3 linked regions of the Homo sapiens genome follow. The protein of the gene in region 1 purifies or fractionates together with the protein of each later gene. This does not show direct contact. Each region holds a gene or a part of one and is shown on either strand. Other genes may lie near its edges.

Region 1 (3,184 bases):
TCTATTTAAACCTCACGTAGCTTAGCTGGTGACTGTTTCATCATCTTTATTTTAACTACTTCAGACCAGATATGGCTGGCCAACAATTTCTTACCAGTCTATTAACACTTCCTATTCTAAGCCAAGAGAAGACAATTATTTATTGTTTCCACGTACAAGGACTCTAGAAAGTTGGAGTAAAAGGAGAAATGGAAGCAATGCATTTCCAGACAGGTTAAAAAAAGGAACTTATCAGAAAATAGGATGATTATTTAATTATAAATTGCAGTAAGAGGCTTCAGATCCAAATCTTATAGCTATTTTTTTTTGAGACAGAGTTTCGCTCTGTTGCCCAGGCTGGAGTGTAATGGCATGATCTTGGCTCATGGCAACCTCTGCCTCCCAGGTTCAAGCAATTCTCCTGCCTCAGCCTCTCAAGTAGCTGGGATTACAGGCATGTGCCACCACACCCAGCTAATTTTTCTATTTTTAGTAGAGACACGGTTTCACCATGTTGGACAGGCTGGTCTCCAACTCCTGACCTCAGGTGATCCACCCACCTTGGCCTCCCAAAGTGCTGGGATTATAGGCATGAGCCACTGCATCTGGCATAGCTATTGTTTTAAAATCACCTTTCCCATCCCGCCAATTAGTATTACATGTTATCTATAAAACACTGCTAAAACCACACATACCTTTTTTTCTTGGCCTTTCTTTCTACATTGGTTTCTCCAATGCTGATAAACACGAGGGGGAAAAAAGCTCCTGTTAATAGAGTGATTATACACAGCTCAGACAAGCCCTTCTACTATCCCCCAAATCATTTTACTCTGGAGAAAGATTCTGTGTTTTTATCACATACAGAGTACAGTATTTCTTATTATAAGCAAGTGGAAAGTCTGCCATTGTAGGCTGTATACGGTACATGCAGTCAACTTAACCAGCATTTAAGCAAGACAATGCATCTTAGCACGTGTATAAAAGTCAGGTAGGTTAGTAGTTAAGATGATTAAATTTTTTTAGTCTGGAACTTAGGCTGATATAGCTGTATCACTACCTCCTGAACAACAGAACAAAGCTAATAGCACAATAGCCCTAATTTGTAGTTTGAGTTCTCAGAATCATACAAATAGCCATTTCATAATTTTTCAAAAGCAGCCCTTTAATTTAAAATAACTATTTCTTTTTCTGCATGTCCCGTTATTTACTTTTTTTTTTTTTTTTTTGAGACAAAGTCTTGTTCTGCTGTCCAGGCTGGTGCAGTGGCGCGATCTTGGCTCACTGCAACCTCCGCCTCCTGGGTTCAAGGAATTCTTCTGCCTCAGCCTCCTGAGTAGCTGGGACTACAGGTGTGTGTCACCAAGCCCGGCTAATTTTTACATTTTTAGTAGAGACAGGGTTTTATCATACTGGCCAGGCTGGTCTCAAACTCCTGACCTCATGATCCGCCCACCTTGGCCTCCCAAAGTCCTGGGGATTACAGGTGTGAGCCACCCTGCCTGGCCGAGTTATTTACTCTTTAAAGACCAGAAATGTAATACTTCAAAACTATGCTCACTCACATTAGTTATAAAGTCTGGTAAATTTGAATGAAAGGGACAAATAGCTTGCTGCTATTATTCTGTCAAACAACATGCATACTAAATCAGGTTTTTAAATTACACAATTAGGCCAGGTGCGGTGGCTCACACCTGTAATCCCAGCAGTTTGGGAGGCCGAGGCAGGCAGATCATTTGAGGTCAGGAGTTCGAGACCAGCCTGGCCAACATGGTGAAACCCTGTCTCTACTAAAAAAAACACAAAAATTAGCCAGGCTTGGTGGTGCATGCCTGTACTCCCAGCTACCCAGGAGACTGAGGCAGGAGAATCTCTTGAACCTGGGAGGCAGAGGTTGCAGTGAGCTGAGATCGCACCATTGCACTCCAGTTTGGGCGACAGAGCAAGACTCTGTCTCAAAATAAAAACAACAACAACAACAACAACAAGAAAAAAACAATTAATTCTATCACCACTGTCCTGTAAATTTAACTTTTTTTTTTCTTTTTGAGATAGGGTCTCACTGTTACCCAGGCTGGAGTGCAGTGGCATGATCTTGGCTTACCGCAACCTCTGCCTCCCAGCCTCAAGCAATCCTCCCACCTCAACCTCTGGAGTAGCTGGGACTACAACACGCACCACCATGCCTAACTTTTGTATTTTTTGTAGAGACGGGGTTTGACCATGTTGCCCAGCCTGGTCCTGAACTCCTAAGCTCAAGCAATCTGCTCACCTCAGCTTCCCAAAGTGTTGGGATTACAAGTGTGAGCCACCACACATGGCCAATGTTTTTATATCCTGGCCTTCTCTATATTTCCTAGATAATGCTTCCATCATTGTTTCCTGAGTCTCCAAACATAAACATGTATTTATGTAAAGTTTTTTACACAATGGAATTACTTACTGAATTGTCATTTTGGGCATAAAATAAGAGGGTGAAGTATACTTATTAAATTATAACTGAATCAAAATTCAGCAATCTTTTTTTTTTTTTTTTTTTTTTTTTTTGAGATGGAGTCTCCCTCTGTCGCCCAGGCAGGAGTGCAGTGCTGGATCTCGGCTCACTGCAAGCTCCACCTCCCGGGTTCATGCCATTTCCTGCCTCAGCCTCCCGAGTAGCTGGGACTACAGGTGCCCGCCACTATGTCTGGCTAATTTTTTTGTATTTTTAGTAGAGACAGGGTTTCACCATGTTAGCCAGGATGGTCTCGATCTCCTGATCTTGTGATCCACCCGCCTCAGCCTCCCAAAATGCTGGGATTGCAGGTGTGAGCCAAGGTTCCTGGCCAGCAATCTTTTTTAACAGAGCCAGATTCATGTAATTATATATATTTTTAGACCAAAATACTTGTGAGATACAATTAGAAAAACAAAAGTAAATGTCAAAATAAAATTTTATTTATGTATTTATTTTTTGTAGAGGTGAGACTTGCTATGTTGCCCAGGCTGGTCTCAAACTCCTGTCCTCAAGTGATCCTCCCACCTTAGCTTCCCAAAGTGCTAGGATTATAGGTGTGCGCCTAAACTAGAATGAAAATTTTCATAACCCGTATTTCATTCTTTAGGACAGGGGTCTTCAAACATTTTTTTGCTTACATTCCTAATAAAATAATTTCTGGAAAACTCATACTTGCAATTCTAAGTTTTAATATTTGCAAAGGGCATATTA
Region 2 (3,652 bases), on another chromosome or scaffold:
GGTGATGGACACTTGGACACACTGGCCATAGAGATCGACTACCGCATACACCTCTGGGGAGGAGAGGGAAGGTCAGAAGCCTGACAGCCAGGTGGTCTGGGCTGAGGGTGGCAGGCTGAAAGCCACATAGTCACCTTTACCCGGAGGCAGGCCCGAGCAGGCAGCGCCTTGGTCCTGGCCGTTGATGAAGTAGTGCAGGTCGCCCTTGGCAGTTCGCATCATGCCAATGCGTGCACCTGTGCCCAGCGCATCCAGGTCACACCCATAATTGTTGCGCATCGTGTTACCGTCTTGCATGATGGCTGTACCACTGGGGGGATGGCAGAAGGGGTGAGTCAGCCTGCCAACTTCAACTTCACATTGGCCCCTGCCCACTCCCTGTCTGTCAGAACCCTCCAATGTCTTGGGCTGGTGTCTTGATCTGGGTGTAAGGCCCAATCCTATCTCCTCTGTCCCTGGGATCCCCTTAGGAAAAAGCAAGAACTGCCTAAGATGAAGGAGGACTGAGCCCCTGTGGGCCTGGGCAGGACTTCCCAGAATTCAAGGGGAGGGGACAGGTAGATCCCCTAGGTCTGTCACTACCCACAGCCACCATAGGCCCAAACCTTGCTTCCCTGATCCCAGCCAGCTCCACTCAGCCCCAAGCTGGTCCCCAAAGCAGGAAGCCCAACCTCAGCATCCATGTGTCATAGTCAATGTCTGTCATGGTGTTGGGGAATTCCAGGTCTTCAGGCCGAATAGCAGTCACTCCTGGGAGGAGGCAGGGGTAAGTCAAGGCCGATCCCCAAGGCACAGACATCCAACAGCCCCCAACACACACAGACGGCCCTCACCAGCCTCAATGGAGCCTGACCAGCGGTCCACCATCTTCTGAATGACAATTTCAAACAGCTCTCCATCCCGCAGGGCCCTGCCAGGAGACTGGCGATCAGAGAGGCTCTACTTGCATGGCTGAGGCTGGGCAGGAGGAAGGTGGGGACATGAAAGTTGAGAGACTGACCGGTTGGAGATGACGATGGCGTCATTAAACTCGCTGCGACAGTTGTGGCGGAGGGCGGTGCGGCCCCCGTTAGTGATGACTGCGTTACTGCCGTGCAGCTGATGGAAGCGCAGGTCAGAGCCCCCGGCCCCTGAGGACGGAGAGCTTGGAGACACCTGGTTGTTCCCCTCAGGGAGTGGTTCAGGAACTGGAGCCACCTCTGTAAAAGTGGACATCACCCATCAGGTCTCTAGGTGTCTCTCAGACCTCCCAAGGCCACCCTAACCCCCAGCCCCAGCCCAGCCCGGCCCTCACCCACGTCGTCCACAATGGTGGCCTGGGCCGCCTGGCCATAGAGATCGACGACAGCATAGACGCCCGGGGGCACGTTCCAGGCAGCAGGGCCCTGAGTCATCCCATTGACAAAGAAGTGGAGAGTCCCGTCCTCCCGCCGTACCACGCCCACCGTGTCCCCTGCCTTGGAAGAAGGGGGTGCTGGAGTGAGGAGTCAGGCAGAGTTCCTGCCGGGGCTGGTCCTGCATCAGCCCCGCGGTGTTTGTGATGCCCGCTGCGGCCGCCAGGCGGCGCACCCACTTTCCCACCTTGAGGCGGTCCAGATTGTGCCCGTATTCATCCAGGATGGTCGTCCCATTGTGCATCACCCCATTCCCAGTCATCATCCAGGTCCCTGGGAGGACAAGGAGCAGGAGGGGACATGAGGGGAAATGCAGGGCTCCTCTCCTTGCCACAGCAGCGCCCACAGGACTCCCGAGCCCACAGTCCACCTTGCCTTTTCTTTGATGACTAGATTTCTTCCCTGAGCAGGACAAGAAAACTCTGCAGCTTCCAAGACAGCCACAGCCCTGCCCACGGGACACTCTCTAGCCACTGAATGAGTGGTCACAAGAGTGACAAGTGAAAAAGGAGCTGCAGAACAAGTGCCAGGGCTTTGGGGATAGCTTCCCCCCAAAACCCTATCCTGTCCCTGCCCTTCCTGGGAGCTCACCAGAGCGCAAGTTGGTCATGGTGGAGGGCAACTGGAGGTAGGCAGGGTTGTGGGTGGTGACACCAATTTCAATGGAGCCAGCCCATTTGTCCACCATCTTGTCGATGCGCACCTGGAACACCTCTCCATCCCGCAGGGCTCTGCTGCTCAGCACCACGCCGTGATTGAAGTCATCGGTGGCACTGAGGGCACAGCAAGTGGAGAGTCAGATCCCCAACACACGCTCTCAATGTGCCAAGGCTTAGCCCAGCAATGCCTGCCAACACTCACTGCCCCAAGCCAAAGAACTAAAGCTCAACCTCCAGGAAGCTGCCCCCGCCAGGCTCCCTCTGCCTTCCACTTCCTTGCCCCGCCCCCCCCCCCCCATTAGAATCCCTTCTTCAGGCTTCTCCCCACCCCATGGGCCATACTGGGGCCTCAGGGCAGTGCGTCCCTCGTGGGTGATGGCTGCCTTCTGCCCACAGTTGGGGTGGAAGAGCAGGCGCTCAGGTTCTGCCTGGGCGGCAGGGGCAGCACGGCGGAGAGCACCCTCGGGGGACAGCGCCCGCAGGATGGCGTTGTTTCGGCGGAGACGGTCACTGTGGTTGTTATTGTGGACGATGGTCACCTTCACTGCCATCCCGTACAAGTCCACCACACCATACACCACTGGGGGCGTCAAGGGGGTTGCCACTCCTGTGGCAGGAAGGTACGGGGGTGTGGGAGTGGACAGGGAGAATGAGGGGAGAAAGTCAAACACAGGGAGGCCAAGCACCAAAGAGAAGCAGGAGGATGAGGTACAGCCCCCAGTCCCAGCCCCACCGAAAGCCCCGGCCCAGAGGCTCTCTCTGGGCGGCCCTTACCCTGATCGATACCATTAATGAAGAAGTGTAGGGCAGAGTTGGACTTCCTTGTGAGGCCAATGTGGTCACCCTCCTAATCAAAGAAGACAAACAGTTTAGAGGAGTCCTGAGGCCTGCTCAGCACCCCACTCCACACAGGAACAACTCCAGAAGGTATTCGTGAGAGTCTCAGACCACCCTGGAGGACAGGTCCTGGGTCCTTGTTTTCCAGACATGACAATTTCCACATTTCGTCAATGCTCCACGTGAGTCAGGCACTGAGTTAAACCACCTCACAGACATTAGCTTCTACAAGTCTCAGCCTATGGAATAAGTACTACTCGTAGGCTCATTTTAGAGATTGCAGGAGGTGGGGGAGCAATCAAAGAGGATAAGCTTCTTGCCCCGGTTCGCTACTACAAATGGGAAAACAGTAAGAGGAATTCAACCATCTGACTCCAAAATCTGAGTGCTGAACTCTTGGGCAACTCAGGCTTCTAGGAAGGAACCTTTAGGTGGAAGATACAGGGACTGCCTCTAGGTCACATAGGAGACCCTGCTTGGTGCCCTGGCAGGGACACAGAGTACCTGTGGCTCTGCTGAAAGCGGCCCAGGGATCTGTGCCCCACCCTCACCTGCAACTCATCCAGACTGAATTCGCAGTACTCCCGGCGGGTGCCCTTGCCATTGGTCAGGATTCCACAGCCGCTCATCATGATGGTGCCTGGGTGATAGTGGACACTTGGGTTCGGGTACGGGGCTTCCTTCCCCTCAGCAACACCAGGCCTGCACCCCCGCCCCTGCCCGGGGCTGGTACCTGACTGGAGGTTGGTCATGGTGGCTGGG
Region 3 (3,652 bases), on another chromosome or scaffold:
AATATTTCAAAAAAATGTCCATGTCATAATTTTTAGTAGTGAAAATTCCCTATGAATTTTAAGCTCAGAAGCCAGTTTTTTCATTCATCACATTTTTTTGAATAAAAATGTGTAATTAGCCATTTGATTTTAGTTGGATAGCCATCAATACTTCAAAAACATTAAAAGTATAGACTCTATATTATGAATATTAAAAATAAATTTTGGGTCACAGAAACAGCATTTGAGAATCATAAAATGGATGGCAAAAATAGAAGGATATTTCAGCTAGGCAGTGGGACAGAAATACTGATGTAAAAGTAGTGTGATTTAAATGGAATGAGTTGAGAATCTGAATTCACCAGTTTTAAGTTGCCTGACTGCCGCCACGTGGGGCATATTGCTTAAAACTTCTCTTGAGGGTGATTATATCTAACCCAGGGGACATTTGGGAATGTCTAGAGACACTGTTGTTTGTCAGTATTGGGGCTGTGTGTTTATGTGTGCTACTGGCATGTTGTAGGTAGAGGCGGGGGATGCTAATATCTGCTTGATGTCGTCACAATATACAGGACAGTATTCCGTCCCCTTCTTCCTCCCTGGTGGGCCCAATTATTTGTCCCAAAGTCAGCAGTGCTGAGGTTGAGAAACCCTGGGATAATGCATTCTGAAGTGCTATACAAGTGTTAGCTAAGGTGACATTATTAGTTGTAGTCAAAACTTTATATGGACTATAAAAGTAAATTTATGGAATTTATGTTCAAGGCACTTAATGCCGGAATAAAAAAAATACAATTGGGTTGGGGGAGAGATACATACATATAAAACAAAATAAATGCTTACAGGAGAATCAAATGAAAATAGAAAGTATGGTATCAAATTTACCTAAAAGTTGTATCTTGAAAATAAGTTTGTTGAATTTTATATTCTGAAGGCTAGATATGAAAAGGGCATAGCTCTCTAGATCAGGGTTTGGCAAGTTGCGGCCCAGCCAGCCTCCTGCTTTTGTAAATAGAATTTTATTAGAACACAGTCATACTGCTTTATGTGTTACTTAACAGTTGTTATTTATAGTTGTTGGGGTAGAAACCATATGGCCCACAAAGCCTAAGAATGTTAGTCTCCACATCTTAAAGAAAAAGTTTGTCAGCCCCTGCTCTAGATACTGGGAAACTCAAGCTTTCTGGATATAGAAAAAAAATGAAATGATTTCTGTGTTCAGTAAAAGCCCTTTTTTAGTATAATTTGGTATTTAACTTTATAATTTAATGAGATCCACTAAGTTTTGATAGTGAGATTTAAACCTAAGTTGGACTTCAGAATCTGCTCTTCATATTATAGCAGATAACACATCTGCATTAGCATTCTTTTGTCTTTTCCACTTCTGCTCTCAAGTGTTATGCTTTAGAGAGTAATATGTAATTACAGTATAAAAGATAATTAAGAAATAATAGAGCTGCACTTAATGCAATCTTCTGTCATTTTATAGAAGAGAAGAAATAGGTCCAGGGGAGGATAAGTTACCGAGGTGATATGACTGAGGGGAAACATTTTTAGAACTCAACAATTCCAAAGGCAGCAGCTCAAATTCCTTTAGAGTACGGTTTCTTGCTCACCTGTCCTGTTCCAGATACACACTTAGCTGACAGTGATCTCTGAAGAGGTGACTTTGAATTTGCTCTTACAATATCTAAACGAGATGAATAATCTGGTGCATACAGAGAATTTCGGAAAACCTATTGTAATGATAAAATAGCATTATAAAGTAGATGCTAAACAAAATCAAGACAGTCAAATTAAGTTCCTTAGTTAAGATTTTTTTTTAAAAAAACAACTCCCCCCAAATGGACAAAATTCCAATTATTGTAAATGTAAAAGAAAAGACAACAAAAATAAGCTAGAAAGATGAAAGCTAAAAATTCTATTTGAACTATGTAAGATGATGACAGATATTAAACAGTAATTAGTCATGAAACAATCATTTAAATGCTTTTGCCAGGAGAACTGCAGAAGTTGAGACCCTCAAAGAGCATGCAAGCTAGTAGGGAGGCTGCGACTCATACCTTTGAATCTTTCTGTTCTGCAAATTCTCAACTCTTACCAATTTAACTCTGCAGTACTGCTATGAAAATTACATAAGAGTAAATTGGAACCACTATAATTTATGGATTCCAACCTTACTAGGATCTGGAATGCCATGACTTGTCAGTTCTCTTTCCTTAAGGCACTATTTCCAAATGTTTACCACTTTTAAGCCTTTCTAGCTCCATCTTTTCTACCCTACCCCCACCATTTCTCTATATAGACTAATAGGTAAGGTTATCAGATATGAATCTCTTGAACTTTCCCTCAAGCTTTTCGCCCCTCCTTTTCCTTCTTTCTCTTTAAAAATACCATTCTGATTTAGTTCCAATGTGCATTTTTCCTTTAACCAAAACTTCAAACCCAACCAACAAAAGCTTTTGTTGTCACAGGTTCCCTCTCCTAAAAAACAAGCTCAAGATCAGTCTTTTTTTTTTTAGTTATCTCAAGGTATAACTACTTAAAAAACTTTCTTGAATATTCGACTTCATCTCCATTTTCTTTTTAAACAAATTTCTTTTCCATTTATTTATCAACAAACTACAATTGAGCTTTTCACCTCCCACTAAAATTGCTCTTCCTCACATCACCAAGGTCTTTTTTTCCTCTTCATCCTCACTGACCCCCTTCCTGAAACTTAAATGCTACTAAACTCTTTCATTGTCCTGGCTTCTCTATTTCTTTACATCTCCTTTTCTACTACTTATACCTAAAATATTTTTAAAGGGTTTCCTTTAGGCCACTTATTATATATAAAAACAATGCTGCTGCACACAGTGGCTCATGCCTATAATCCTAGCACTTTGGGAGGCCAAGGCAGGAGGATCACTTGAGCCTAGGAGTTTGAGATCAGCCTGGGCAACATGGCGAAACCCTATCTCTCCAAACAAAAAAACAATCAGCCAGGGGTGGTGGTGCATGCTTGTAGTCCCAGCTACTTGGGAGGCTGACGCAGGAGAATCACTTGAGCCTGGGAGGCAGAGGTTGCAGTGAGCCAAGATCACAACACGCCACTGCACTCCATCCTGGGCAATAGAGTGAGACCCTGTCTCAAAAAAAAAGTTTCTCTGAAAGATCTTATCTACACTGTTAATGACTACCCTTCAACTAATCCCCTGACAAGCATACCCTGTGATAGCTGTATTCATGCTCCCAACTATCTCCTGCTCTAGACCAGCACTGTCCAGAAGAACTTTCTGAGATGATGGAAATGCTTGCTGTTCTGTACTGTACAGAAACGTAGCCACTGGCCATGTGTGGCTACTAAGCACTTGAAATGTGGTTCACGTGGCCGAGGAGCTGAATTTTTAAATTGAACTTTAAATAGTTATATATGCCTAATGGCTACTTTACTGAACCGTGTAGCTCTAGATTAGCTATTACAATGAAAGACATTATCTTTTACCTAGAAGACCAAACTATAAGCCTGGGCATTCTCCCTAAATTTCTCACCTGACACTTTGGGAGGCCAACGCAGGCGGATCGCTTGAGCCCCAGGAGTTCAAGACCAGCCTGGGCAACATGGCGAAACTCCATCTCTACAAAAAATATGAAAATTAGCCAGGCATAGTGGGACGTGCCTATAATTCCA

The links.
Region 2: the proteins of ZCCHC10 (region 1) and NEURL4 purify together in Homo sapiens (co-immunoprecipitation; 3 studies listed by BioGRID and IntAct, with this or other methods). This does not show direct contact.
Region 3: the proteins of ZCCHC10 (region 1) and CIBAR1 purify together in Homo sapiens (co-immunoprecipitation; 2 studies listed by BioGRID and IntAct, with this or other methods). This does not show direct contact.

What each region holds. Positions count from the first base shown.
Region 1 is NC_000005.10:132,999,458-133,002,641, forward strand, and holds part of ZCCHC10 (zinc finger CCHC domain-containing protein 10), read right to left. Parts: intron 963-3,184; exon of another isoform or gene 939-962; intron 745-938; coding exon of another isoform or gene 717-744; coding exon 675-716; intron 1-674.
Region 2 is NC_000017.11:7,322,814-7,326,465, forward strand, and holds part of NEURL4 (neuralized-like protein 4), read right to left. Parts: coding exon 3,624-3,652; intron 3,531-3,623; coding exon 3,442-3,530; intron 2,901-3,441; coding exon 2,828-2,900; intron 2,661-2,827; coding exon 2,396-2,660; intron 2,168-2,395; coding exon 1,986-2,167; intron 1,668-1,985; coding exon 1,582-1,667; intron 1,458-1,581; coding exon 1,295-1,457; intron 1,200-1,294; coding exon 1,001-1,199; intron 911-1,000; coding exon 834-910; intron 751-833; coding exon 672-750; intron 311-671; coding exon 135-310; intron 54-134; coding exon 1-53. UniProt on the Homo sapiens protein: Promotes CCP110 ubiquitination and proteasome-dependent degradation. By counteracting accumulation of CP110, maintains normal centriolar homeostasis and preventing formation of ectopic microtubular organizing centers.
Region 3 is NC_000008.11:93,724,457-93,728,108, reverse strand, and holds part of CIBAR1 (CBY1-interacting BAR domain-containing protein 1), read right to left. Parts: intron 3,600-3,652; exon of another isoform or gene 3,514-3,599; intron 1,716-3,513; coding exon 1,596-1,715; intron 979-1,595; exon of another isoform or gene 865-978; intron 1-864. UniProt on the Homo sapiens protein: Plays a critical role in regulating mitochondrial ultrastructure and function by maintaining the integrity of mitochondrial morphology, particularly the organization of cristae.